Homo sapiens: one gene and its partners. The protein of the gene in region 1 interacts with the protein of each later gene in a biochemical or structural test. Each region holds a gene or a part of one and is shown in the gene's direction. Other genes may lie near its edges.

The links.
Region 2: the proteins of EP300 (region 1) and CITED2 form a complex in vitro, tested with the Homo sapiens proteins (5 studies listed by BioGRID).
Region 3: the proteins of EP300 (region 1) and PPARG form a complex in vitro, tested with the Homo sapiens proteins (6 studies listed by BioGRID, with this or other methods).
Region 4: the proteins of EP300 (region 1) and CARM1 form a complex in vitro, tested with the Homo sapiens proteins (5 studies listed by BioGRID, with this or other methods).

Annotation. Positions count from the first base shown.
Region 1 is NC_000022.11:41,095,592-41,102,616, forward strand, and holds part of EP300 (histone acetyltransferase p300), read left to right. Parts: intron 1-7,025. UniProt on the Homo sapiens protein: Functions as a histone acetyltransferase and regulates transcription via chromatin remodeling. Acetylates all four core histones in nucleosomes. Histone acetylation gives an epigenetic tag for transcriptional activation.
Region 2 is NC_000006.12:139,371,631-139,378,734, reverse strand, and holds CITED2 (cbp/p300-interacting transactivator 2), read left to right. Parts: upstream 1-4,086; 5' UTR 4,087-4,322; intron 4,323-4,372; exon of another isoform or gene 4,373-4,471; intron 4,472-4,521; exon of another isoform or gene 4,522-4,596; coding exon of another isoform or gene 4,597-4,603; intron 4,604-4,782; coding exon of another isoform or gene 4,783-4,790; coding exon 4,791-5,603; 3' UTR 5,604-6,928; downstream 6,929-7,104. UniProt on the Homo sapiens protein: Transcriptional coactivator of the p300/CBP-mediated transcription complex. Acts as a bridge, linking TFAP2 transcription factors and the p300/CBP transcriptional coactivator complex in order to stimulate TFAP2-mediated transcriptional activation.
Region 3 is NC_000003.12:12,284,837-12,292,086, forward strand, and holds the start of PPARG (peroxisome proliferator-activated receptor gamma), read left to right. Parts: upstream 1-4,233; 5' UTR 4,234-4,298; intron 4,299-7,250. UniProt on the Homo sapiens protein: Nuclear receptor that binds peroxisome proliferators such as hypolipidemic drugs and fatty acids.
Region 4 is NC_000019.10:10,874,553-10,881,577, forward strand, and holds part of CARM1 (histone-arginine methyltransferase CARM1), read left to right. Parts: intron 1-7,025. UniProt on the Homo sapiens protein: Methylates (mono- and asymmetric dimethylation) the guanidino nitrogens of arginyl residues in several proteins involved in DNA packaging, transcription regulation, pre-mRNA splicing, and mRNA stability.

The DNA of each region.
Region 1 (7,025 bases):
TAACTTTTATTGGAGGCACATCACCTCTTAAAACTTTTAAGTTTCAAACTTGTAACTTTTGATTTTTGAGTTGTCACTTGGGTATTTTATAAATGTGAAAGAAAATTATTTCTTGATATTATGGTTTTTGTCTAGAACTGGTTGAAATAAGCCCGAAATTCTAGCACCTAAAACTTTTTTAAAAAAAGTGATTTAGGCTTGCAAATTTCGTGATGTAAATATATCCACCAAGAGCGTTCTAATGTCAGCTTTAAAGGAAAGAAAACTGGAATCCAATGGGATGACATGCTAAAGTGTTACAAATCAAATTATTACTTAAATCTCAACCTCTGAATTGCTGTTTAATACTCAGATATTCTCCTAAAAAATTTCCAGGTTGATTCAAATAACTTAGGTTAAACTCAACTTTTACGTGTTGGGATGGGGAAGAGAAGACTTATTTGTAGCCTTCACACCTTTATGTTCCTGTTTCAGTATTTGCATTTGATCCATTGAAATTTTTATTTCATTTGGTATGGTTAGGGTAAAACAAATCATTTGAGAAATGACATTTTGTTCTCCCTCTCCCTCCAAAAAAAAAAGATTATGAAAGCCACTTGTAAACTTTTTTTGTAAAAATGACCAAAAGACTGGAAAAGTTAATGTTAGGCAAATCCTGGAAATATCTTTTGGAGCTGTTTCTGATCATCTTGAGTGATGGAAATGATGAGGGTCATCTGTTGTCTTCATTACTCAGTGAACACGTTTTGTCACTGCTTGGTAAACGCTTAATGCCGTATGCACTTAAAAAGCACCTGGAAAGATAGGATTTTAGGATCTGGCATATAATTAAGTAGGGTAAAGATCCTTCTGGTCTTGGTACAGTTTTGTGGCCCTGGGTTTTGTGCTTTTTTGTTTTTTGAGTTTTTCCCCCATTTCAAAGACACAGGGCAGATAGTGTGTAAAGTATACCTGCTTTTTGACCAGTAGATTAATGTACACAGTGGAGAAGTGGTAAGGCTTTTTAAAATGTCAGCTCTACTTTTTTTTTTTTTTTTTTTTTTTGAGACAGAGGTTTGCTCTCGTTGCCCAGGCTGGAGTGCAGTAGCTCGATCTTGGCTCACTGCAATCTCAACCTCCCAGGTTCAAGCGATTCTCTGCTTCACCCTCCTCAGTAGCTGGGATTGCAGGTGTCCACAACCATGCCCAGCTAAGTTTTGTATTTTTTAGTGGAGACAGTATTTCACCATTTTGGCCAGGCTGGTCTCGAACTCCTGACCTCAGGTGATCCACCCGCCTCAGCCTCCCAAAGTGCTGGGAATACAGGCGTGAGCCACCATGCCCGGCTGTCAGCTCTATTTTCTTAAAATGCCATTGTGTTAGTGGTTCGTCATCCTAACCAAAACATTTTGATCAAGACCATTTATTTTCCAGCTCTGTAACTTGTGATATGCTATGTTTTATTTTATTTTGGCTTGAATGTTTACATAAGAGTTTGCTTCTGGAGTCTTGCAGATATAGCTCCTGATTTAGTGAGGCATTTCTCTCCTCAGTATTAAATTGCAAAACATTTTACTAAAGTGCTTTAAGTTTTTCTGGCAATTATTCTCAAGGCCTTGTAAGTTCATTTATAGGACTTCAAGAAGGTTGTCTCTGGTTGATAGTGAGATAAAGTGACTTTTAAGTTGTAAATCTTGAATGCGTTACAATATGGGGGTCTTATTCCAGCAGGAGTTCATCTTCTATAGCAGAGGTTGGAATTGTATTGGCATGTCCAGTGAATGGATAATAGGGAGGAGGGAGGAAAGGGTTTCTGCCTTGGTGGCCTTTTGGCATTATTTTGTGTTTTTCTTTGCTTTTCTCTCTCTTCTTTATTTAATAAAAACAAAAAAATGGAAACAGTTGAAAATTAATGCAAAGTGGTATTTGTAGGGACATTAAGTGGTAAATAGGAAAGAGAAAAAGAGTAGGAAGAGTGTTGCAGATACAAGTGGGAGTGTAAAATACTTTTTCCTGGTATATTTACAAAAACAATTTGAGAGTTATTCTGCCAATTCATATACCCAGCAATTAATGGAAAAGTAAAAGATGCTAGTTTTATGTTTGTCCAGATTTTAGGGTTTCCTTCTTTGAAGATTTCTAAAGTTGAATATTTTTTTAAGTGAGGCAAGCAGTAAAATTAATGGGCAAATGAAACCAATTATACCAAGTCTAAAATTTTTCTTTTTTTTTTGAGGCAGAGTCTCGCTTTGTAGCTGGGACTACAGGCGCCTGCCACCATGCCCAGCTAATTTTTTGTATTTTTAGTAGAGACGGGGTTTCACCATGTTGGCCATGATGGTCTCGATCTCCTGACCTTGTGAACCTCCCATCTCTGCCTCCCAAAGTGCTGGGATTACAGGCGTGAGCCACCGCGCCCAGCTAAAAATTTTTTTTTTTTTTAATACTTTTAAGTTTTAGGATACATGTGCACAACGTGCAGGTTTGTCACATATGTATACATGTGCCATGTTGGTGTGCTGCACCCATTAACTCGTCATTTAGCATTAGGTATATCTCCTAATGCTATCCCTCTCCCCTCCCTGCTAAAAAATTTTTTAACATTGAACTTCGCAGGTGATTTTTTTTCGCTTAATAGACGGTAGTTTCATTTTGAAATTTTCATGGGAAATTACTGCTCACTTTCCCAGAAGCGCTTAAGAGGATAAATAATAATTGAGGTGTTAAGCCTCTTCTGAGCAATTTGGATATAATTTGTTTTTAGATCTAGATTCTTTTTTATAAATGTCCCAAAGCAATTAGAAGTGATTGTTTTTTTTGAGACGGAGTCTCGCTCTGTCGCCCAGGCTGGAGTGCAGTGGCGCGATCTCGGGTCACTGCAAGCTCCGCCTCCCGGGTTCAAGCCATTCTCCTGCCTCAGCCTCCCGAGTAGCTGGGACTACAGGCGCCCGCCACCACACCCGGCTAATTTTTTGTATTTTTAGTAGAGACGGGGTTTCACCGTGTTAGCAAGGATGGTCTCCATACACTGACCTCGTGATCCGCCCACCTCAGCCTCCCAAAGTGCTGGGATTACAGGCGTGAGCCATAGCACCTGGCCCTAGAAGTAATTTTGTTGAGAGAGAGAGAGTAAAACTAAAAGTACTGAAAAGAGTAAGAGAGTAGCTAAGAGAATGAGTATTGGAGTCAGACTGCTAGAGTTCATAGCCCAGGCTTGTATTTATTAACTGTGAACTTTGGGCCAAATACTTAACCTGGCTCAACCTCCTCACATTTATTCCTAACCACAGCCCTGTAAGGTGGGTGCGCACCTTATAGGAATCCACCTTACTTACCCACCTTACAGGATTGTGGTTAGGAATAAATGAGAATTCTCTTTATCAGATGCTTAGGACTATGCTTGCTTCTGTGTAGTATGTGTTCATTGTTAACTGTTTTTAACTTTACTGCTAAATATATCAGAAGGAAAGCAGTGGTAGATGGTTTGGGGGTTGTTTTTGTTTTTTTGATTTGCAACGAAGTCTTGCTCTGTTGCCCAAGCTGGAGTACAGTGGCGTGATCTCGGCCTATGACAACCTCCGTCTCCCGGCTTCAAGCGATTCTCCTGCTCAGCCTCCGGAGTAGCTAGGACTACAGCTGCGCAGCACCATGCCCGGCTAATTTTTGTATTTTTAGTAGAGACAGGGAGTCCTGACCTCGTGATCCACCCACCTCGGCCTCCCAAAATGTTGGGATTACAGGCATGAGCCACCGCGCCCGGCCTGTTTTTGTTTTTCGTGGATATACAGTAGTCCCCCCTTATCCTTGCGGGATACATTCCAAGATCTCCAGTGGATACCTGAAACCCTGTATAGTAGTGAATATAATTGTCATCAGTCAGAACACGTTTCTGTCCGTGTCTTCCACACACAAATTTAATGCCTTTTCCATCTTAACTAATCACTTGTCATGCACTGTGGCTGTGATGTTTGCAGTTTGAGGTACAACAGCAAAACTATCACGAATTTTTTTCCTTCACAATTTCATGTATAGATTTGATCTTTGTAACCTCCGCATACAATTTTTTTTCATTCCTTATTAAGTCAAGAACTTTCACCTTCAAGCAATTTACAGCTTCTCTTTGGCATATCCATATAGCTGTCATTGCTACTTTTGGACTTAGGGACTGTCATTAAGTAAAATAAGGGTTACTTAAAACTCAAGCATTGCCCTGCCCCATAGTCAGTCTGACAATCTGATAACTGAGATGGCTACTAAGTGACAAATGGCTGGTAGTTTATACAGGTGAATACATTAGACGGAGGGGAGATTCACTACCCGGTCAGGTGAGATTTCATCAGGCTACTCAGAATGGCGCACAGTTTAAAACATTGTTGTGGCTCACGCCTGTAATCCTGGCACTTTGGGAGATTGAGGCAGGAGGATTGCTTGAGGCCAGGCATTCAAGACCAGCCTGGGCAATGTAGTGGGACCCCCCATCCCCCCACCATCTCTAGAAAAAAAATTTAAAAAGTCAGCAAGGCATGGTGGCATGCATCTGTAGTCCTAGCTTCTTGGGAGGCTTAAGGTGTGAGGATCTCTTGAGCCCAGGAGTTTTGAGGTTACAGTGAGCTATGATGACACCACTGTACACTCCAGCCTAGGTGACATAGCAAGACTCTGTTTCTAAAACAACAAAAATTAGTGTTTATTTCTGCAGTTTTCTTTGTAATATTTTTGTACCACAGGTGTTTGAAATGGCAGAAAATGAAACGGGGTAAGGATGAACTCCTGTATAGATAGACTGGATAAAGAGAAAGCCAAGTGCATGATGTTCATAGAGGAGTCTTAAGAGTAAGCCTTATGTCATCTATCCAAATGTTGTTTTCTAGGAGTATAAGAATATAGGAACAGAGCTTAAAATGGAAAAATACTGTACAGTTAGCCTTCCGTATCTGAGGGTTCCGTGTTTGTGGAGTCAGCCACAGATTGAAAATATTTAGGGGAAAAAAATCCATGGTTGCATCTGTACTGGACATGTACAGACTTTATTTTCTTGTCATTATTCCCTAAACAATACAGTGCACCAACTATTTATGTTGCATTTACACTGCATTAGGTATTGTAAATAATCCAGAAAGAATTCAAAGTATATGGGTGGGTGTGTGTAGGTTATATGCAAATACTACATGTCCCCTTTATATCAGGGACTGGAGCATCCTCAGATTTTGGTATCTGCAGTGGAGGGAGTGGATTCTGGAACCAATTCCCAGCAGATACCAAGGGACAACCATATATATATAGTATCATGACATCTTGTATCATGTCACGTATATATATATCATATATATTATCATGTCACGTATACAAGACATCTTATATATCCTATCATGTAAGATGTCTTGTATACGTAAGTAATAGAAATGAAAATCAGCAGATAGTTAAGGCATAATGAGAAAATGGAAAACATTGTTCTTGTTAGAAATGTTTAAGAATGGCTTCTTGATAAAGAACTGTGTTAAGCATATTCTTTCTTCTTTTTAGACACAGAGTCTCACTCTGTTTCCTAGACAGGAGTGCAGTGGTGCAATCCTGGCTCACTGTAGCCTCCATCTCCTGGGTTCAAGCTATTCTCCTGCCTCAACCTCCCAAGTAGCTGGGATTACAGGCACCTGCTACCATGCCTGGCTAATGTTTGTATTTTTAGTAGAGATAGGGTTTCACCGTGTTGGCCAGGCTGGTCTCGAACTCCTGACCTCAGTCTGCCCACCTCGGCCTCCCAAAGTGCTGGTATTAGAGGCGAGAGCCACAGTGCCTGGCCAATTAAGCATAATTTTTTCTATTTTTCATTTTCTTACATGGATCTTTTTTTTTTTTTTTGAGACGGAGTCTAGCTCTGTCACCCAGGCTAGAGTGCAGTGACACGATCTCGGCTCACTGCCAGCTCCGCCTCCTGGGTTCATGCCATTCTCCTGCCTCAGCCTCCCTAGTGGCTGGGACTACAGGCACCCGCCACCATGCCCGGCTAATTTTTTGTATTTTTAGTAGAGATGGGGTTTCACCATGTTAGGCAGGATGGTCTCGATCTGCTGACTTCATAATCTACCCTTCTCGGCCTCCCAAAGTGCTGGGATTACAGGGGTAAGCCACCGTGCCCAGCCACCTGGGTCTTAAAGAATAAATTTTCTTGAGATGGAGTCTTGCTGTGTTGCCCAGGCTGAAGTTATCCTCCTGCTTCGGCCTCCTGAGTAGCTGGGATTGCAGATGTGAGCCACTATGCCTGCCTCTAAGAAACTTTCTTATAAAGGAGGAAGAAGAAAAGTAGCAGTGCAGTGCTCCAAAGAATTTTTTTACAACACTTAAGGAAGAACTACCTTTAACTTGTAGCACTAGAGACTCTGTTTCAAAGAATGCACAAGAATACTTACCCTTATTACTTGTAATATACTCTCATATTTTCTGTTGCTTTTTTTTCTTTTCTTTTTTTTTTTTTTTTTAGTACTGGTTGCAGCCTACTATATTGATTTTTATGACCCACTGTTGGCTTTTGAGCCATAATTTGAAGAATACTGGCGTAGAAGAGTTGACAAGATGGCAGTTATTCTGTATTAGGCCAACATTTTCTGTATGCCAGGAACTTATCCTCTGTACATTGTTCCTTCTTTCCTTCCTGGAGTTTATAGATAAGGGAAGAAGACTGGCATTCACGGAGTCTGGTGTGATCAGCATTGTATTTGGGAAGTACGTATATAGTGGGAGGAACAGGAGAACCTAACCCAGTAGTTATCCTGGTGGCTGTCTTTGAGGAATTGTGTCTGATTTTGGGATCTCACAGATAGAGATAGGATTAGTAAAAATGAGCCCAGGCTAGAAAGGAGACTGTGTGAGGCCAGGTATATCCTGTTCTGGGAACCTGTGAGTGCTGTCTGACTGGTAGAATAGCCAAAAACTTGACTGTAGAGGTGAGCAAGGGGGCCAATCATGGAGGGCTTATAATACAGGAATTTAGACTTTCCATTTTACCCATTTAATGGATGGGGCAGAATTGTGCTTTAGGCAGTTAAGTA
Region 2 (7,104 bases), on another chromosome or scaffold:
CTCCCCAGTATCTAGGACTACAGGTATGCACCTCCACACCCAGCTCATTTTCTAATTTTATTTTGTTGAGACAGGATCTCAAGATGTTGCCCAGGTTGGTCTCGAATTCCTGGGCTCAAGTGATCCTCCCACTTCAACCTCCCAAAGTTCTGGGACTACAGGTGTGAGCCACTGCACCTGGCCTACCTCCAGCCTTGAGAGTGACCTTCTCCAGAAAGTCTTCCTTGGCCCCTCATTGGGGTTCCCATAGTGCCAATGCCATATTTTATTCATGCATTCACCCTTCAATTAGTAAAAGTCTAATACCTGCCAGGACTTGTTTCAGACAGTGAATGAACAACCAGGCTAGGTCTCTGCTCTCATGGAGCTGTCATTCTAATGGGGAAGGCAGTAAACTGTCAATTTACCATGCAGCATGTCAGGTAGGAAGATACTCTAAGATGAAACATAAAGCAGGGCAAGGAAACAAGAGAGATATTGCTATTTGGGTAGGACAGTCAGGGAGAGTTTGTTGAGGTGATATTTGAGCAGAGACATGAAGAAATGAGAATATGGGCCAGTAGGACGTCTGGGAAGACAGTTCCAGGTGGCAACTTTCTTTGTCAGCAGCAGGGGTCTTGTATTACTCAGTTTATTTACCACTGTTATTAGTCAAATTGTGTCCCCGCAAAAATATCTTGGAGATATGTTGGAGTTCTAACCTCCAGAATATGACCTTCTTTGGAGTCAGGAGCTTATAGAGGTGATCAAGTTAACATGAGGCCAGTAGGAGAAGCCCTAATCCAAAAGGACTAGAGTCCTTGTCAAAAGGGGAACTTTGGACACAGAGATACACATACAGGGGGGCGGGGGGTGGAAAACGTCACATGAAGATGAAGGTGGGGATCAGTGTGATGCATCTACAAGTCAAGGGACACCAAAGATTGCCGGGAAACCACCAAAAGCCAGGAAAGAGACACGGAATAGATTCTCTCTCACGGTCTTCAGAACCAACCCTGCCAACAACTTGGCCTTGTACCTCTAGCCTCCAGAACTGTGAGACAATAATGTTTTGTTGTTTAAAGCTTGATCAGCCTTAAGTTTGTATTAGACTGGTGCAAAAGTAATTACAGTTTTCGCCATTGCTTTCAATGGCAAAAATCACAATTACTTTTGCACCAACCTAAATAGTACTGTGTTATGGCAGCTCTGGGAAATGAATACAACCATTCAGTGCTGTGAGGGCCACAGACAGATCACTTGCTCGCTCACCCAGGTTCACGGGATAAACCCTGGTTATACGGAACTTCTGGGAGCCCTGGGTTACTGTAAGTGCCCCCTAACTGGACTCCCTGTTTCCTGTCTTACTTTCTCTAACCATTCTCCACAGTACTGCCCTGATCTTTCTAAAATCCAAATCTTTCCTATCTCATGGCTTCACAAGCTTTTACCTGCCTCCCAATGTCTTTGGGATACAGCAAAATTTCTCAGCTTGAGGCCACAATGCCCTTGGCATCCGGCCCCAGCATATTTCTCCAACCTTATTTCTCTCATCTTTGCATTCACTCCCTAGCCATACATTTTCTACCCCACTCCTAATGGGACCAAACTTCCATTCATCCTGAGGCCTCCACTTAGTCACCATCTCCACCGGAAAGCCTTCCCAAAGCACCCAGGAGGGGGGTAGGTGTCCCTCCTATGTGCTCTCCAAAGCCCTTTCCTTCAATGCCTTTGTGGCATTTATCACAGTGTGTTCAAGGCCTGTTTGTCAGTTTTCTCCCTGTGACCATGAGTTCCTATCTTGTTTGTATCTCCAGGCACCAAGAAAGCACTTGGCACTTGGAGGACATTCAGTGGACGGATGAGAATAAATGAACAAAGCATGCCATGTTCCAACCAGCTGGTCCCAGAACTATTTTGTTCTCCTTTAAGGGATGGGGGATGGGCAGGTGACCTTTCCAGGGATTTCCCAATAGTAGGTAGAACCACTGGAGCTGGATGGAGCTCCACCTTTCCTTAGTGGTTGCAAGAGGAATTTAGATTAGACATTCAAAAGCTGTTTCTTGTGTCGAAAGACACTTGCAGTACAAAGAAGGGAAAGTAAACAATCCCGCGATTTTTCAGGTTGGGTTTTACCAATATTTTAGAATCTGTTTTTTTATAGGAAGTGGCCCCTTCAGGTATCCAAGCCTCTGATACGGTAAACTGCATGTCCTGACCTACAGGTAAAGGTGGTGGGAGGTTAGGAGAATAGGGAATTGTTGCAACTAACAATGCAATGTGTCATGTGCCCGTATCTCTAAAAAGTAAATATTTTTGAGGTTTAAAAATTATTTGCCTGCACGGTTTGCCGGAGAGCCTGGAAGAGGAAAGAAGACAAGACACAAAGTAACAACATTTACAAAAATATGCCTGACTAGGAAAAGACAGAGGGGTCATAGACGAAAATAATCAGGATTGGGTCTCTTTTGCAAATTCCTGAACGGGGAAATGTATCAGAATTTCCAGTCCTCAAGAAACAGGGCCTTTAAAAGTCTTGTGTGCAAGAAGGGGGAAAAAGACGAGGGGGGGGCGGGGAGGCGGACTCGCTCTTCGCAGCAGGAAGTCTTCAATGGCTATCGAGTTATGAAGAAACAACTGCCCAGAAGTCCTTATTCGGAGCGCTAAACTCGATTTTACCACATAAAGAGCAATGTAAAAGCTCAGAACAGCCCCATCATGGTGTTGGGGAAACAACTCGGCTTCCCCATGTGAGAAAGCCAGAGAGCTCCGACTTGGTAGTAGCCCAGACCTGTGTTAGGGGTTTTATTTGCAAGTCAATGAACCAAACGGGCGACCAGGCTCGTTGTGCCGCGTTGTGGAAGCAAGGTTATTATTATCGCCCATTGCCCCACTGAACAATTTCACTGAAAAGGAAGAGTCCCAGCCGTGTGTGTGCGCGTGGTGCCATACGGGACGTGCAGCTACGTGCCCACCTCCAGAACGACTTTATTTACAAAGCGATTACCACGTTATCTATTTGTTTTCCTTTTCCAGCAAGAGCAGCCTTACTCAGCCCTCAAATTTCTTAATTACAAACCCGTTTGCTTCTAAATCAACCCCAAACCGTCAGGCAGAGCCCGGAGGGAGGCTCTGCAAGTTTGTACACACCCCCACCTCCCGGATCCAGGGCAACAGCAGAAGCAAGTAACTGTGTATGTGCAAAAAGGTGGATCTGGGGACGAGGATCGCTGAGTTTGTTTACAGAGCAGAGACGCCTCAGCTCGGATGCCAAAGCTACCAAGAGCTGCAAACGCAAACTTAGCAGAAGCACACGTACCCCGGGAGCGGCAGGCGGGCCCGAAAGCGCGGACTGGAATTCCAGGGCGCGGGAGCGGGGGTGGCCGGGCCCTCGAGCGCGCTCCGTCCACCTGCAGCGGCTGCCCCTCCCCGCCCCCAGCTCCTGTCCTTGAAAGGAGTGGAGGAAAAAAATGCATCTACAAGCGGTGATCTAGAGTAGGTCTACCCACTGCCCGTATGAAAACACAAAGGCACAGCCTAGGAAGGCGCGCTCAGGAAAGGGCGCATTATTTGTCCGGGTCTTTAAAACCCAACTCGAGGAAGCACAGCCATTCTTCGCTGCCTGTGGAAGCTTTTGCAAAACCGGGGAGGCACAAGGGCACTCTGGAGGGCGGGGGGCGCTGGGCGAGTCCCCTTTTCCCGTAGAGAGCGGGGCAGATCGCTAGGTGAACCGAGTGAGAAAGCTGGGGGTGGGGTAGATCCAGCCTGAGGGGGGCGGTGAGCTCTCCTCGTGGCTATCCCGGCAGGCTCTACCTTCGGGCGGGGCGGCAGGGGAGGATTTTCCCCCTGCCTCGGGGGTGGCTGAGCCAACCTCGCGTTTCTGGGCCGGGAAGAAACCAGAGTCGGGGGGCGACGGGGCGACTGGGCGGCCCCCGGGCCCCGCAGCCTCTGCAGCACGTGCCGCGGGCGGCGGGGACGCGGCTCCGGGACCCGGTCCAGGGTGTTCGCGGTGTTCCGGAATCCGCGTCTTGGCGCCGCCCGCCCTGGAGGCTCTCGCTCCGCCTTTCCGAAATGCCTATATTAACTGTGGCCAAAGCCCTAAGAAACACAGCTCATTGTTGGCAGCTGCCGGGCGGTCCTGCCGAGCTGTGAGGGCAACGGAGGGGAAATAAAAGGGAACGGCTCCGAATCTGCCCCAGCGGCCGCTGCGAGACCTCGGCGCCGACATCGCGACAGCGAAGCGCTTTGCACGCCAGGAAGGTCCCCTCTATGTGCTGCTGAGCCGGTCCTGGACGCGACGAGCCCGCCCTCGGTCTTCGGAGCAGAAATCGCAAAAACGGAAGGTAAGCGCGACGGGCGAAGCTGGCTGGGGCTCTTGCCAGCCCAGTCCTCCGAGGGCAGGGTTTGCCCGGAGGAAGAGCGTGAGGCGAAGCTGGGGAATAACAACAGGATGTGCAACAACAGGATGAGGAGGGCTGATTTAATGCCTGAAGTTCGCAGCAGGGCTACGGGGCACTTCCTTTATTAGGCCACTTCGGGGAGCAAAGGGGGTGTGGGCTCGGGTCCCCCCGCCCGATCGCAGGGGAAGGGGCTGTTTGTGCAGCGTCCGGCTGTGTTATGAGTGGTAGCTCTTCCGTGGTGGCTAGCCCGGGTGCACAGGCTGTTAGTGGGATCTTGGGGGTGGTGGTTCGCAGCCGACGTGCGCCCGGGAATCCTGGGGGGCAGAGGCGAGCAAAAGTGGGGTGCGCTGTGGTGGGCGACACGTGTGGCGCGGGTCTCATTATCTGCCCTTTTCACTTCCAGGACTGGAAATGGCAGACCATATGATGGCCATGAACCACGGGCGCTTCCCCGACGGCACCAATGGGCTGCACCATCACCCTGCCCACCGCATGGGCATGGGGCAGTTCCCGAGCCCCCATCACCACCAGCAGCAGCAGCCCCAGCACGCCTTCAACGCCCTAATGGGCGAGCACATACACTACGGCGCGGGCAACATGAATGCCACGAGCGGCATCAGGCATGCGATGGGGCCGGGGACTGTGAACGGAGGGCACCCCCCGAGCGCGCTGGCCCCCGCGGCCAGGTTTAACAACTCCCAGTTCATGGGTCCCCCGGTGGCCAGCCAGGGAGGCTCCCTGCCGGCCAGCATGCAGCTGCAGAAGCTCAACAACCAGTATTTCAACCATCACCCCTACCCCCACAACCACTACATGCCGGATTTGCACCCTGCTGCAGGCCACCAGATGAACGGGACAAACCAGCACTTCCGAGATTGCAACCCCAAGCACAGCGGCGGCAGCAGCACCCCCGGCGGCTCGGGCGGCAGCAGCACCCCCGGCGGCTCTGGCAGCAGCTCGGGCGGCGGCGCGGGCAGCAGCAACAGCGGCGGCGGCAGCGGCAGCGGCAACATGCCCGCCTCCGTGGCCCACGTCCCCGCTGCAATGCTGCCGCCCAATGTCATAGACACTGATTTCATCGACGAGGAAGTTCTTATGTCCTTGGTGATAGAAATGGGTTTGGACCGCATCAAGGAGCTGCCCGAACTCTGGCTGGGGCAAAACGAGTTTGATTTTATGACGGACTTCGTGTGCAAACAGCAGCCCAGCAGAGTGAGCTGTTGACTCGATCGAAACCCCGGCGAAAGAAATCAAACCCCCAACTTCTTCGGCGTGAATTAAAAGAAACATTCCCTTAGACACAGTATCTCACTTTTCAGATCTTGAAAGGTTTGAGAACTTGGAAACAAAGTAAACTATAAACTTGTACAAATTGGTTTTAAAAAAAATTGCTGCCACTTTTTTTTCCTGTTTTTGTTTCGTTTTTGTAGCCTTGACATTCACCCACCTCCCTTATGTAGTTGAAATATCTAGCTAACTTGGTCTTTTTCGTTGTTTGTTTTTACTCCTTTCCCTCACTTTCTCCAGTGCTCAACTGTTAGATATTAATCTTGGCAAACTGCTTAATCTTGTGGATTTTGTAGATGGTTTCAAATGACTGAACTGCATTCAGATTTACGAGTGAAAGGAAAAATTGCATTAGTTGGTTGCATGAACTTCGAAGGGCAGATATTACTGCACAAACTGCCATCTCGCTTCATTTTTTTAACTATGCATTTGAGTACAGACTAATTTTTAAAATATGCTAAACTGGAAGATTAAACAGATGTGGGCCAAACTGTTCTGGATCAGGAAAGTCATACTGTTCACTTTCAAGTTGGCTGTCCCCCCCGCCGCCCCCCCCACCCCCATATGTACAGATGATAATAGGGTGTGGAATGTCGTCAGTGGCAAACATTTCACAGATTTTTATTTTGTTTCTGTCTTCAACATTTTTGACACTGTGCTAATAGTTATATTCAGTACATGAAAAGATACTACTGTGTTGAAAGCTTTTTAGGAAATTTTGACAGTATTTTTGTACAAAACATTTTTTTGAAAAAATACTTGTTAATTTATTCTATTTTAATTTGCCAATGTCAATAAAAAGTTAAGAAATAACTTGTTTTCTAGAAGTCATTTGGGGGTGGTTGTTCCCTTTGGTGGCTTTTTTCCCCCCGTCTTTGAGTTGAACACTATTGATGAGAGTAAGCATTCCAAAGGATAAATTACAGGACACTAAAACAGGTCATGATGAGCTTAAGCGGAGAGCAGGATTTAACATAATTGGCATAATGCTTCATTGTTATCATTGTAACATGCCTCTTGGTGTGCTTTAATCAAAAGCTGCAAAGTTGTCACTGCTTTTTTTTTTTTCTTAATTGCCATCATATCAAGTGTACTCCAGAGTTAGAAAGGTTTGCAATACTCAACATTATCTTTTTCAATGGGCAGGAGGCAAAAAAAATCAAGTGTTTCTGTTTATACCTGATTCAACTACTTAAATAGAGGTAGATTGGAATAATACACTGATTGATTGATGGGTGGCATTAAATATAAATCTACCTTTATCTCCAGTGATGAGAGTTTTATTTCTCAGCAAAAGTGCCAAGGATAGGTACATATTTTCTAGCGTAATCTCTGAAACAGTGTCTGACTGGTTTATAGTTCTGAGAAAGATGAGGCAGAATTCCACTTTGAGGCTTTTGTCCTATAATATTTAAAATGTACTCAGGTTGACTCAAAG
Region 3 (7,250 bases), on another chromosome or scaffold:
CCTGGAATAATATATTGGCAAATCATGTATCTGATAAGAGACTCGGATATAGACTATATAAATAAATAACTCTCACAACTCAACAATAGAAAGAAAAATAATCCAATTTAAAAACAGGGAAAGGATTTAAGCAGACTTTCTTCAAAAAAGATAAATGGCCAATGAACACATGAAAAGATGCTCAACGGGATAGTCACCAAGGCAATGCAAATCAAAACCATGAGACACCGGCTCGGGCAACATAGTGAGATCCCATCTCTACAAAAGAATACAAAAATTAGCTGGTGTGGTGGCATGCACCTGTTGTCCCAGCCACTTGGGAGGCTGAGGTGGGAGGATTGCTTTAGCCCAGGAATTCGAGGCTGCAGTGAACTATGATTGCACCACTGCACTCCAGCCTGGGTGAGAGAGCAATACCTTGTCTCAAAACAAACAAACAAACAAAACCCCATGAGATATCACTTCATACCCTTTAGGTTGGCTAAAATAAAAAAGACTATAACAAGTGTTGACAAGGATGTGGAAAAACTGGAACCCTGACACATTGCTGGTGGGATTGTAAAATGGTGTGCCCACTTTGGAAAACAGACTGGCAGTTCCTCAAAAACACCGAGTTACCTTATGATCCTGCAGTTCTGTCCCTAGGTATATACTCAAGAGAAATAAAAATATATGTCCACAAGTAACCTTGTACATGAATGCTCACAGCAGCATTATTCATAATAGCCCATAAAAGTAGAAACAACCTAAATATTCATCAATTCATGGGATGAATAAACAAAATGTGGTATATGTGTATAATGGAATATTGACCATAAAAAGGAATGAAATATTAATATAAGCTATAACATGGATGAGCCTCACAAATACTATGCTAAGTGAAAGAAGAAAGTCACAAAGGACTTCATATTCTATGATTCTATTTATATGAATTGTCCAGAATAGGTAAATCTATAGAGAAAGAATATCTCTATCTAGAGTTGGTGGAATGACTGTTAATGGAGAGGGGGTTCCTTTTTGGAGTGATGAAAATGTTCTAAGGGTAGATTTGGTGATGATGGCACAACTCTGTCAATAAACTAAAACTCATTGAACTGTACATTTTATTTATTTATTTTTGAGATGGAGTCTTGCTCTGGGGCTGAAGTGCAGTGGCGCAATCTCGGCTTGTAACCTCTGCCTCCCAGGGTCAAGCGATTCTACTGCCTCAGCCCCCCGAGTAGCTGAGATTACAGGCACGTGCCACCACGCCCAGCTAATTTTTGTATTTCTTAGTAGAGATGGAGTTTCACCATGTTGGCCAGGCTGGTCTTGAACTCCCGGCCTCAAGTGATCCACCTGCCTCGGCCTCCCAAAGTGCTGGGATTACAGGCGTGAGCTGCCATACCCGGCCTGAATTGTACATTTTACTTCTATGGTATTTACATTTTAGATTATATTAATTATTCCTCAATAAAGCTGTGATTTTAAAAAGCAGGCTAGGCGCAGTGGCTGGTGCCTATAATCCCAGCACTTTGGAAAGCTGAGGCAGGAGGATCACTTGAGCCCAGGAGTTTCAGACTAGTCTAGGCAACATGTCAAGACACAGTCTCTACTAAACAATTAAAATTAAAAAAAAAAATTAGCCAGGCATGGTGGTGTGCACCTGTAGTCCCAGCTACTTGGGAGCCTGGGGTGGGAGGATTCCTTGAGCCCGGGAAGTCGAGGCTGAAGTGAGCCGTGATTGCGCCACAGCACTCCAGCCTGGGCGACACAGCAACACCCTGTCTCATGGAAGAAAGAAAGAAAAGAAAGGAAGAAAGAAAAAAAAAAAGCAGATTGGAACTCTGGAATTAACAAGAAGTAGGACGCACGGAGCACTTCCGCCTGAGTGGAGACTGTGGATCCGGGTCAACCTGACTACCTAAATCACAGGCCAATAAATGGTCTTTCAGTGGTCAGTCCCTGTAAGATCCGTGGCTCTCAGCTTCTTATCTTAGGGGCTGTGGAGGAAGGACATGATTATGTTGATTTAAGCGCTGAATATTTTCCCTTGTGATACCCATCCTCGCAAAACTTTGCTTCAACCACAAACGAGGACCTTCTGTACCAGAGGGGCAATAACCACAATGAAGCTAGGAAGAAATGCAGAGCACCCCAGCATACAGTCCATAAGCTTCCTGAAGTGGGGGGCCTCAGGCATCGCTGCCTCCCCAAAGAGGATCAGGCCCAGAACAGTATGCTCCAGAAATAAGACTGGAAAAAGGGAAAGAGGGGCCTCAAGTCCAGGAGACCAGCGGCTTTCTGAACGCGCACCTGCCAACCCACTTTGGACAGGTCACGATGGACAGCGTGGCAGGAAAAGAAAAGGTCACTGTCTACCCAACACATGAGAAACTGTTTCTCGTGCCTCACGTCCCCACTCCGTCCCCACCCATGTTGTCTGAGTCCCTCGGTGTCAGAAACACTGCTAAGAAATTTAAGAAATTCTGTTAATGAGTTTAAGAAATGTTTTTAATGATTAAAAGTCAGTGACTTGTGAATAACCATGTAACTTACAAACGCAAGGAACTCTGAAAGTGTGCAGCACCACCGATCAGAAGAGAAAACCAAGGGACCCGAAATATGCTTTAATTAAATTTTCTTTTAAAATGTCACTGGAAAGAACATCTTGGGAAGACGGCCTGGCCGATCGCCGTGTGAAGGGCAAGCCACTCTGGCCGAGAGGGAGCCCCACACCTCGGTCTCCCCAGACCGGCCCTGGCCGGGGGCATCCCCCTAAACTTCGGATCCCTCCTCGGAAATGGGACCCTCTCTGGGCCGCCTCCCAGCGGTGGTGGCGAGGAGCAAACGACACCAGGTAGCCTGCCGCGGGGCAGAGAGTGGACGCGGGAAAGCCGGTGGCTCCCGCCGTGGGCCCTACTGTGCGCGGGCGGCGGCCGAGCCCGGGCCGCTCCCTCCCAGTCGCGCGCCGCCGCCCCCGCCCCCGCCCCCGCCCCCGCCCCCACCCCCACCCCCACCCCCACCCCCAGCCGGCGCCCGCGCCCGCCCCCGCGCCGGGCCCGGCTCGGCCCGACCCGGCTCCGCCGCGGGCAGGCGGGGCCCAGCGCACTCGGAGCCCGAGCCCGAGCCGCAGCCGCCGCCTGGGGCGCTTGGGTCGGCCTCGAGGACACCGGAGAGGGGCGCCACGCCGCCGTGGCCGCAGGTCAGAGTACGGGTGCCCGCGGCGCTCGGGAACCGGCTGCTGGCTGGGCGGGGAGTGCTCAGGGAGGGGGCGCGGAGGGCTGGGGCCGAGGGTCTGGGGGCTAGGGCCGAGGAAACGGGAACTGACGGGGTCCCAGACGGATGAGAGCTGGGGAGAAGGGGGTCTCGGCTGAGGGGTCCGGGGCTGAGGCAGGGTCATGGTCCGGCAGGACCCGGACTGACGGGTCGCGGGCGGGCGGCTCACGGGTGACCGGGTGAAGGGGTCTTGGGCTGAGGGCACCCGGGCTGAGGGTCGCGTCTACCGGAGCGCGCACTAGGGGCGGAGGGCGCGGGCACAGAGAGCCGCGGCCGGTGCCGACTCGAGTGGACGCGAGCCGGTGCGTCCCGGCTTCCAGGACAGCCCCCCTCGGGAGAGCGCCGGGTGGGCGCGGAGCCGGGGACACGGGGACCTCCGCGTCCCCGGCGGAGGTGCGCAAGCGTCGGGAGCCGCTCCGGGGGAACTTTGGAGCAGGGTGTCTGGACCCGGGGAAGCGAAGATCCGCGTGCGTCCGTCCTGAGGCCGCGCGGCACCCCTGCTGAGGAGGAGGTCCCGTTCGCTGTCCAGAGCCCAGGGGCGACCGCCGCTTGGGGACCGGGGGACCGTTCAGCGAGGGGCGCGCTTGTAGCTGGCCAGGCCCTGTGCCCTGACGCGTTGTGCTGGCCCTACGCCCGGCGGAGGGGCTGGGGACGGGGACTGGGTGCCTCCGTGCCTCCGCGGATGGAGCGCGCAGCCAGGACCCCCAGCCGCACCCCGGGGGGCTGGAAAGGCGAAGTCGCTGCTTTGTGGGCTCCTGCAAGTGCCAGGCGCTGACCACTCCTCCTGGGAGCCTAACTGAGGGGGGTAGAGGCAGCAGAGGTTAACAGAAATCTCAGGTCCCTTGGTGGAAGGTGGGTGTGTAGTCGTGGTACTTTACGCCTCGGTGTTTAGGGAGGAGCCTAAGGTAAGGAGTCAGAAACGGGGAGTAACCGAGCTGCGGCTTTTATATAAGGTCAGTGGTAGGTAAGGAAGGGGCCTTAACCTCTGCTGGTGACCAGAAGCCTGCATTTCTGCATTCTGCTTAATTCCCTTTCCTTAGGTGAGTTGGCTCACTCTCATTGCATTTTGTTGGAATGTGTTGGTGATAGGTCCGAAATTTGCAAAATTATTGTATTATCCTTATATCATTTTTTTTTGCAGTGCTCTTGTTTTATAAGAAGAATCCAATTCACTTGGGTCATAGGCTAACGGTTGTAAAAATAGTGTCATTGTTATAAAAGAAATCAAGTCAAAAATAGTCGTCTGCCATGAAGAAACTAAAATTTTTCTTCTTTTCCTTGCAAGATTAGGGACAAAATGTAAAGTTTATTTGTGTAAATTATCATTTGGATATAAAACCAGACAATGATAAACTGAGTTGTATAATACCTATTCCTGGAAAACCTCTGATTTTGAAGTACATTATTTTAACCCCAACTGTTTCTGTCATTCGTGAGACAAATTGTTAACTGGATTTATTAAGAGAACAATGAATAACTTAACTCTTTAAAAGGACCTGGGCAAATCTTCGACAGGTTTCAGGTATTTTATGGCAGTCTTTCTGTCTATTGCTAAGTGATCGATTGCTGACTGAGAACAGAACCAACTGATGGTGCTAGATGATTTAGAAAACCTTTCTGGTATAGGGACTGGCATGGACATTCACTGTGGCTTTTCTCTTAAAGAAATACCTTTCACTCCTAGGGGAGTTTGACAGAAGACACTCATAGATGCTACCAGTTAGCATTTGGAGTAATATATCAAAACATTCTGTTCAAGTTTTAAAGTAAGTTTTGTGTAGTATATTTTCAATCAGATTCACTTTGGAATCAAATACACTTTATTTGATTCCAAATAAAGTGTATTTGAATATTCACTTTAATATACGAAACTTTAAAGGTAATGTCTCAGCCAAAAAGTGAAGTGTATTACAAAACTGTCCATTTTTGTCTTCTTGTGTACTTCACATAATTTTTCTCCCTGATTTAAATTATATGATATTTGATAGTTAACTTGCTAATAATTATGTCTTAAGAGATCTTTGAATCAACTGGTGGCCATCTCAGTCTTTTAAAACTCACTTGAAGGAAAAGAGAAACACTAATGATGGTTTTTTTTAAAATCAAAAACTTTTTTCATATTTACAAGTTTGTTTCTAGTTCTTAAACAATAACTGCTGTAAAACCATGGCATCAGTGAGGTATAAAGTTTTGTAGAATCCCAGGCTGAAGACTTTTTGGATGTCGTTTTCTCATTTCTTTACATTAAAAAGAATATAATTTCTTTTTAAAATTAAAACTAAAATGTCCACCGGCCTCATATTCTTTATTGAACTTAAGTGCTTTGAAAATATTTTTGCGATTGATATTTTTAATGATAAAATATAATATTTTCTTTGAAGGACTAGTTTCCTAAATGTTCATTTTTTTGTATGTTTCAGAACTACTTTTAAAAAAATTCTAGATTATGCTTTAAATTGCAATATTTCTAAATTCCTATGACATTTAAAATGTGTACAAGAGAAAAGGTGTGACATGAGGAATATGAATTAGAAGTGGATTACTAATGGTCGTAGTGAATTGTTTTTAATCAGTGTTATATAAATATAAACAAATACTTTTTTCTTCTGTAATTTTCTGACAATAAGGATGTTAGCCACTAACCTTAATTATCAAGATAATTATGTGCATGAAAGCTGTGTAAAAGGCACAACCGTGGAACATATACAAGTATTAATAATACATTTCATTTAGTTTTCAGGTTATAAAATCGTTATTAATAACAAGAGGCTTTCATGAAGTAGGAAAATATGTTAAAATGACATTTTCTGAATGTTTCACACATTCTGGCCCACACTTTCACTTCTTTCCTAGCATCTATATATTCCCAATGCATAGGACAGAGTTGGTCATTCTAATTGTGGGTGTCTTTCTGCTGGATTCGTTGTCACTTGGACTTGGAAATACAGTATGTCATTAGGTGTGGCAAATGTACTGGAAGAAGTTTTTGGTCTCATAGGATTCCACTAAATAAATATTAGCTGTAGAGGATTTTTAAAAACTCACTAATAGAGAAAACTTGGTGAAGTCACTAGTGTGTAAGCGTAAACATATGCACCCCCCACAACTGAATTTCTAATTTGCTTATTTTTCCTGGTAGATCTCCACTTTGCTTACTCTCTCTTAATATCCCAAAGCAACAAAAAGCGCAGTGATTTTAATTGCTTACAAAGGTCCTTTGAAACGGATCTAATTTGACTCCACAAAAGAATAGTAAGAGTTGTGAACAACCATCTTGCAAGTGTAGATATCCCCAGCGTATCAACTTCAGTTAGTTTCATAGCGTTCTAAATCAAAAATTTAGATTTAAGATTATTTGAAATCTTCTTGGAAGTTCTTACTTACTGTTTGCGTTTTCTCAAAATACAGAGGTAGATTGGGGGAGTAATATAGTATATGTTTTAAAGCTGTTATTTAACTAAAATGTCATGTTTTAAATTTTATTTAATGCACTTAAAGTAGGTTCTTGGGATAAAATCTATTCAGATGCAATAGGCCATGTTTTGGGGAAAACTTTTGTAGATGTTTAGATAATATCTGTCATCAATAATAGTATATGTTTAAATTATTTTGTAAAAACAGATTTACATATTTTTAAAATTTCTCTTCAACAATAAGTACACATCAATATTTTAATGCCGAGAATTTCATTCAGAGTATGACTGTTTACATTTTCAACTGTTTCAATTATTATGGCTTAGGCAAGTACCTTATCCTTTCTCTCAATTTTGTCATCTTTGAAACGGAGAAAGTGTTGCAGTTATTATTGCTTGCTCTTTTGCTATGATTTTAAGGCTTTATGAGCAAACCCATGTACTTTAAATGATGTGACCATGACCCTGAATTTAATTGAGCTGATATTCTGAAAAGAACCTTCATGAATATCTATGTCATAGCTAACTCTTTTACCAATGTTAATAGTTCACTGTAGTTCAAACCTCAATAACTTTGAG
Region 4 (7,025 bases), on another chromosome or scaffold:
CTAATCTTTCATATTTTTTGTAGAGAAAGGGTTTTCACTGTGTTGGCCAGGCTGGTCTCAAACTCCTGGGCTCAAGTGATCCTCCCTCCTTGGCCTCCCACAGTCCTGGAATTACAGGCATGAGCCACCGCACCGCCCTCTTTATCCTTAAGTAACATTGATATGGAGATAAAAAACATGGGTTCTTGGCCAGGCGTGGTGGCTCACACCTGTAATCCCAGCACTTTGAGAGGTTGAGGCAGGCGAATCACTTGAGGTCAGGAGGTTGAGACCAGCTTGGCCAACATGGCAAAATCTCGTCTCTGCTAAAAATGCAAAAATTAGCCAGGTGTGGTGGTACCTGCGACTGTAGTCCCAGCTACTCCGGAGGATGAGGTGGGAGGATCGCTTGAACCAGGGAAGCAGAGGTTACAGTGAGCTGAGATTGCACCACTGCATGTCAGCCTGGGTGACAGAGCAAGACCCTGTCTGAAAAAAAAAAAAAAAGCATGGGTTCTGGAGTTGGAGGTGATCAGTGCTGGGTGTATTAATTTCCCATGGCTGCAATAACAAATTATGACAGATTTTTGGTTTAAGACAACAGGAATGGATTCTCTCTCAGTTCATGGTCAGAAGTCTGAAATCATGGTACTGGCAGGGCCACAATCCCTGGAGAGGTTCTACAGGAAAATCCTTGCATCTTCCAGATTGCAGTGGATCCAGCTGTTGCTTGATTTGCAGCAGCGAAACCCAAGTCCCTGCGTCTGTCTTCACTCCTGTGTCTTGTGTCCTCTTTTTTCCTTTTTTTTTTAAAGTGAGATGGAGTCTCGCCGTGTTATAGGCTGGTCTCGAACTCCTAGGCTCAAGTGATCCTCCCACCTCAGCTGTTCTTTTCTTTTCTTTTTTTTTTTGAGACGGAGTCTGGCTCTGTCACCCAGGCTGAAGTGCAATTGCGCGATCTCCGCTTACTGCAAGCTCTGCCTCCTGGGTTCAGGCCATTCTCCTGCCTCAGCCTCCCGGGTAGCTGGGACTACAGGCGCCCGCCACCACGCCCGGCTAATTCTTTGTATTTTTAGTAGAGACGGGGTTTCACCGTGTTAGCCAGGATGGTCTCCATCTCCTGACCTCGTGATCTGCCCACCTTGGCCTCCCAAAGTGCTGGGATTACAGGCTTGAGCCACCGTGCCCGGCCCCAGCTGTTCTTTTCTTATAAGGACACTGGGCATTGGATTTAGGGCCCACTTTATATCTAGGATGATCTCATCTCAAGATCCTTATCTGCAAAGACCCTATTTCCTAATAAGGTCACCTTCACAGATTCCAGGGGTTACAACTTGGATGTCTGTCTTTTTTTTTTTTTTGAGATGGAATTTTGCCCAGGCTGGAGTGCAATGGCGTGATCTCGGCTCACTGCAACCTCTGCCTCCCGGGTTCGAGCGATTCGCCTGCTTTGGCCTCCCAAAGTCCTGGGATTACAGGGATTAGAGGCATGTGCCACCATGCCCGGTTAATTTTTTTTGTATTTTTAGTAGAGATGGGGTTTCTCCGTGTTGGTCAGGCTGGTCTCGAACTCCTGACCTCAGGTGATCCGCCCACCTTGGCCTCCTAAAGTGCTGGGATTACAGGTGTGAGCCACCGCCACCAGCCTCACATATGGCTAATTTTTAAGTTTCTTCTAGCGATGCGGTCTCACTATTTTGCCCAGGCTGGTCTTGAACTCCTGGGCTCAAGCAGTCCTCCTGCCTTGGCCTCCCAAAGTGCTAGGATTACAGACGTGAGCCACTGCGCCCGGCCAATAAATATTTATGTCCATGTTACTGACAGCAGTGTTCGTTGGTGTGGCATGGGAATGAGCTAGCTTTTCTAGGAGGAGCCCCCTATGCTCCAGGGCTGCCCCGCTGTCTTGGCTCACCGGCCATGGGAGGGAGTCCTGGGCCATGATCTGTACCTAACATAGGAGGCCCAGGAGAGGCACGTGGGGAGGACTTCCAGCCCTGTTCCTTGACGTCTGCACCCTCCAGGGGAAGGATGACAGCTGCAGAAGGGCCTGTCTCTGTCACTCTGTAGTGAACAGTTACTTCTTGCCATCTGAAGTCACCCTGGCCTACGTCCATGAGATTGGCCAAATGGCAACTACCAACACCAGGCCATTTTCCCTGTGCAGAGGGGGAGGCCCTTTGGCGTGGGCTTCCTGGGCTTGAGGAAGCTTTGGCATGGCCTCTGGAGTTCCTGGGCATAGGCTGCCCTCCCTTGGAAAGGAGGCAGTTTCTCAGGGAGGGGTGCCGGGAAAGAGAACAGAACAAACTCTCACTTCCCCAGCCCTGTGGCGCTCTTTCTGGAAATGACTGTGTCACTTTTCTTTCTTGGTCAGCACGAGTCAGTGTGGCCAGTGCTTTAGACTCTCCCATCCCCTTGGCTCAGAAGCTTACACAGCAGCATGGGCTCCGTCAGGGGCTAAACTTCAGTTTGTGAGGGGCATGCCATGGGGTGGAAAGTTCAGAGAAAAACCCTTTGTCCAAAGAAGGTGAAGAATGGCCTGCTGTCACCGAACCAGGGGCCCTTGTGACTTCCTTTGGTTACACTCCTGGGATCCCCCTGACAGCTGGGGCAGGGGTATAGAAGAGCTTGTTATGTGCCCCATCTTTAGGACATCTCGGTGTCAAGCTGGAGTGACAACAGGGAAAGTTAGTAACCCCAGAAAGGCATTTGTGTTTCAGCGGTGCCTGCGTGTGGCTAATGGATACCGTCATTTATTGAGCATTTATCCCGTACCAGACTGTGCATAAACTTGTGTTGACTCAAAATGCTTGACCTTGGGGGCAGCTAGGGAAAGGGCAGTGATATAAATTAGGCCTATGGGCCACATTGAGCCTGTGGCCTATTTTTATCTGTGTTTGTATTTTATTAGTGAGACAGAGTCTCACTGTGTTGCCCAGGCTGGAGTGCAATGGCATGGTCTTGGCTCACTGTAACCTCCACCTCCCAGGTTCAAGTGATTCTCATGCCTCACCCTCCTGAGTAGCTGGGATTACAGGCCTGTGCCACCACCCTGGCTAATTTTTGTATTTTTAGTAGAGACAGGGTTTCACCATCTTGGCCAGGCTGGCCTCGAACTCCTGACCTCAAATAATCTGCCTGCCTCAGCCTCCCAAAATGCTGGGATTACAGGTGCGAGCCACCGCACCCAGCCTGTGTTTTATTATTTATTTATTTTGAGATGGAATCTCGCTCTGTTGCCCAGGCTGGAATGCAGTGGCGCAATCTCGGCTCACTGCAACCTCTGCCTCCCAGGTTCAAGCGATTCTCCTGTCTCAGCCTCCCGAGTAGCTGGGATTACAGGCACATGCCGCCATGCCCAGCTAATTTTTTGTATTTTAGTAGCTCACTGCAGCCTCTAACTCCTGGGCTCAAGTGATCCTCTGGCCTCATCCTCCCAAGTAGCTGGGACTACAAGCACATGTCACCACCCTTGGCTAATTTAAGCAATTTTTTTAGAGACAGAGTCTTGCTGTGTTTCCCAGGCTGGCCCCAAACCCCTGGCCTCAAACCATCCTCCTCCTGCCTGAGCCTCAGAAGTAGCTGGGATTATAGTCACGAACCGCTGGGCCCGGTGTGGCCTATTTTTGTACAGACAAAGCTAAGAAAGGCTTTTACAGTTTTTGAGAGATTGATTAGGGAAAAAAACTAAAACCCAATCCACAAACAACAATAATCAGTTGAGACCACAGTGTCCTGCAAAACCTGAAATATTTACTCACTGGCCCGAGGCAGGGGAAGCTTGTAGACCCCTGGGATAAATGAATGAGGCAGGCAGGAGTTGGGGTCTGTGGGGAGTTTGGCCCCAGCCAAAAGAGAAACCAAAAAATCCTCAGGCCGAATAGAGCATACTTCTGAATTGTGTGAGCCCCTTGTGCCAATTGTGGCGCTTACTGTATGTTACCACTTACTCTGAAAAGAGTTCTGTGAGGTCAGAGATACCAACCCCAATTTACTGGTGGAAAAACAGAAATGAAAGAACTTGACTGGCCAAAGTGATGTGGTTGGCAGGCAGCAGAGATGGCTTTGGCATTCTGGGTGACTGGATGCCCACCTTAAATGCATATATAAGTGGTTCAGTGACATTTATCTGTTCATCACAAAGACCCAAAGTAGCAGAGGCTTAATTAAACACGATGGCATTTTATTTTTTGTGCTCTAATGCTAAAGTGTGAAGATTGTCAGGTGCCAAAGTCTCCTGGGCTCTTGGAAGTTCCCAGATCCAGGTCCTCCCCCCGGCTTTTTTTTTTTTTTTGAGATGGTGTCTCGCTCTGTTGCCCAGGGGCTGCAGTGCAGTGGTGTGATCTCAGCTCACTGCATCCTCTGCCTCCCGGGTTCAAGCGATTCTCCTGCCTCAGCCTCCCAAGTATCTGGGACTACAGGCGTGTGCCACCACGGCTGGCTAATTTTTGTATTTTTAGTAGAGACGGGGTATCGCCACGTTGGCCAGGCTGTTCTCAAACTCCTGACCTCAGGTGATCCACCCGCCTCGGCCTCCCAAAGTGCTGGGATTACAGGCCACTGCCCCAGGCTGATCCTCCACCATTCTTAAGGTGAGGTCTTGTCCTCAGGTTTCAGCATGACTGCTGGAGTCCCGCCATTACACCCTGGCTTCCAGACAGCAGGACAGAGGAAGGGACAAAGGAGAAAGGGTGCAAAGGTCACATCCAGGTGTTTGTTAAGAAAGGTTCCCGGTAGCTGATGCAAGGTGCTTCAGCTTTCATTTTGTTGGCTAGAATGTAGTCACATGATCACTGCCAGCTGCAAGGGATGCTGGGAAATGTAGTTTTCAATCTGAGCGGCCATGTGCTCAGCTGAATTTAGGGTTCCAGTTTCCATGGACAAAGAGAGAACATACAGGGAGTCACCTTGGCCACAGTGGGTAGGATCTGGACCTGGCCAGAATGTTGGGAAGGACGTTTCTGGGTTATGGAGAGGTGCTCCAGTGGGCCAGGGCTGGAGACAGCCACCTGGCTTGGAGCACAGGGTCCCCTGTGAGGAGTGGAGGGGCTAAAAGTGGAAACAGGGCTGGGTTGGAATCGAGGATTTTTTTGGTTTTTTTGGAGATGAATTCTCGCCCTGTCACCCAGGCTGGAGCACAGTGGCTCAATGTCATCTCACTGCAACCTCTAGCCTCCCAGGTTCAAGTCATTCTCCTGCATCAGACTCCCAAGTAGCTAGGATTATAAGTGCGTGCAACCACACCCAGATAATTTTTGTATTTTTAGTAGATACGGGGGTCTCACCCTTTTGGCCAGGCTGGTCTTGAACTCCTGACCTCAAGTGATCCATCTGCCTTGGCCTCCCAAAGTCCTAGGATTACCGGCATGAGTCACCGCACCCAGCCTCAGGTGAAATCTTAATGGAAGGTGTCCAGTGCTGTGAGCAGCTCCTGGTCACCAAGCACTGGCCCTCTGTGTAGGGGGTCTGGATGAGATGGGTGGGCAAGGCCTTTCAACAGAAGCTGGAGTGTGGTGTGAACTTGCTAATGACTTTGAGATGCCAAGCCTCACACACCTCAGACCAGGTTGGATTTAGCAGGTGGAGAGGCTCAGGAAGACCTCTGTGGCAGGTGTGTCTCCTTTCTGCGGAAACCTGCTGCTTCTAAGGTCTGCTGGAGAACCTGGGAGGTGGTGAGTTTGCAAAGACATCCAGGGAAGCAGCCACTTAAGCGAGGGCAGGATGGAGGGGCCCACCTGGGCCACACCTGGCTGCTTGAGGTGGCGAGTTGAGGCTGGGAGGGGTTTCCATCAGTTCCATCAGCTCAGAGCTAGGATTTTTTTTTCTTCTTTTTTTGAGACAGGGTCTTGCTGTGTCACCCAGGCTGGAGTGCAGTGACACGATCATAGCTCATTGCAGCCTTGAACACCCAGGCTCAAGGGATTCTCCCTCCCTCAGCCTCTCTACAGGCTGGGACCACAGGCGCACATCACCATGCCTGGCTAATTTTTTTTTTTTTTTTTTTTTGTAGAGACAGGGTCTCACTATGTTGCTCAGGCGGATGTGGAACTCCTGGGCTCAAGCGATTCTCCTACCTTGGCCCCCAAAGTGCTGGGATTACAGGTGTGAGTCATGGCAGCCACGGCTCCAGAGCTCGGGTTCTTAATCTGGTCTGTGGATGGCCCCTGGGGGCGGTCCCATGAGCCCCTCACAATTGGACACAGTTTTGCAAAGGGGTAAAAGGACAAGAATCGGTAGCTGTGACTGTGGATGAGCCTCTGAGCTTCACTTTCCCTCCCTGAAAGGGGGTGACAGTGGCACCTCCCTGGAGGTTTTCGTGGAGGGGAGGAAACACATGTAAAATACTTCACCCCAGTTGGGCACAGAGGCTCATGCCTGTAATCCCAGGTTTTGGGAGGCCGAGGCAGCAGGGCGGTTTGAGTCCAGGAATTTACAACCAGCCCGGGAAACACAGTGAAACTGTATCTCTTAAAAAATAATTTAAAAAAATTAGCCGGCATGGTGGCACATGCCTCTAGTCCCAGCTATTCCAGAGGCTGAGGCGGGAGGATTGCTTGAGCCCAGAAGCTTGAGGCTACATTGAGCCATAATCGTACCACTGCACTCCATCCCGGGAAACAGGGCAAGACCTTGTCTCTAAAAAAAAATGCTTCTTGCTTGATGACTTGTGATATATGAAAAGGAAGAAAGAAAAGAAAAGCTTTGCCCTGTGTGCCTGGCCCGAAGTAAGTGCTCCATAAATTGGCCGTGGTGTAGCTGTGGATTCTCTGCACATTTTTCTGTGCAGAACCTCCCCTGATTTCGGTCAGCTTCTCAGAAGGATCTGTGACTGAAAAAGGGTACCAGTTCCTGGAGGACAGCACCTGATTGGGGAGTGGAGTCTGCCCTGGCTGGTAAGGGATTGGGGGCTCTCTGCGCAGGGCCAGGACATCTCTCCAGGGACAGGCGAGAAGCTTTGAAAGGGCAGGAAGGAGAGGGCAGCAAGGTCAGATGCCGTGAGAGGTCAGAGTGAGAGCCAAGGGGCGGTCACTGGATTTCTGAGCAGGAGG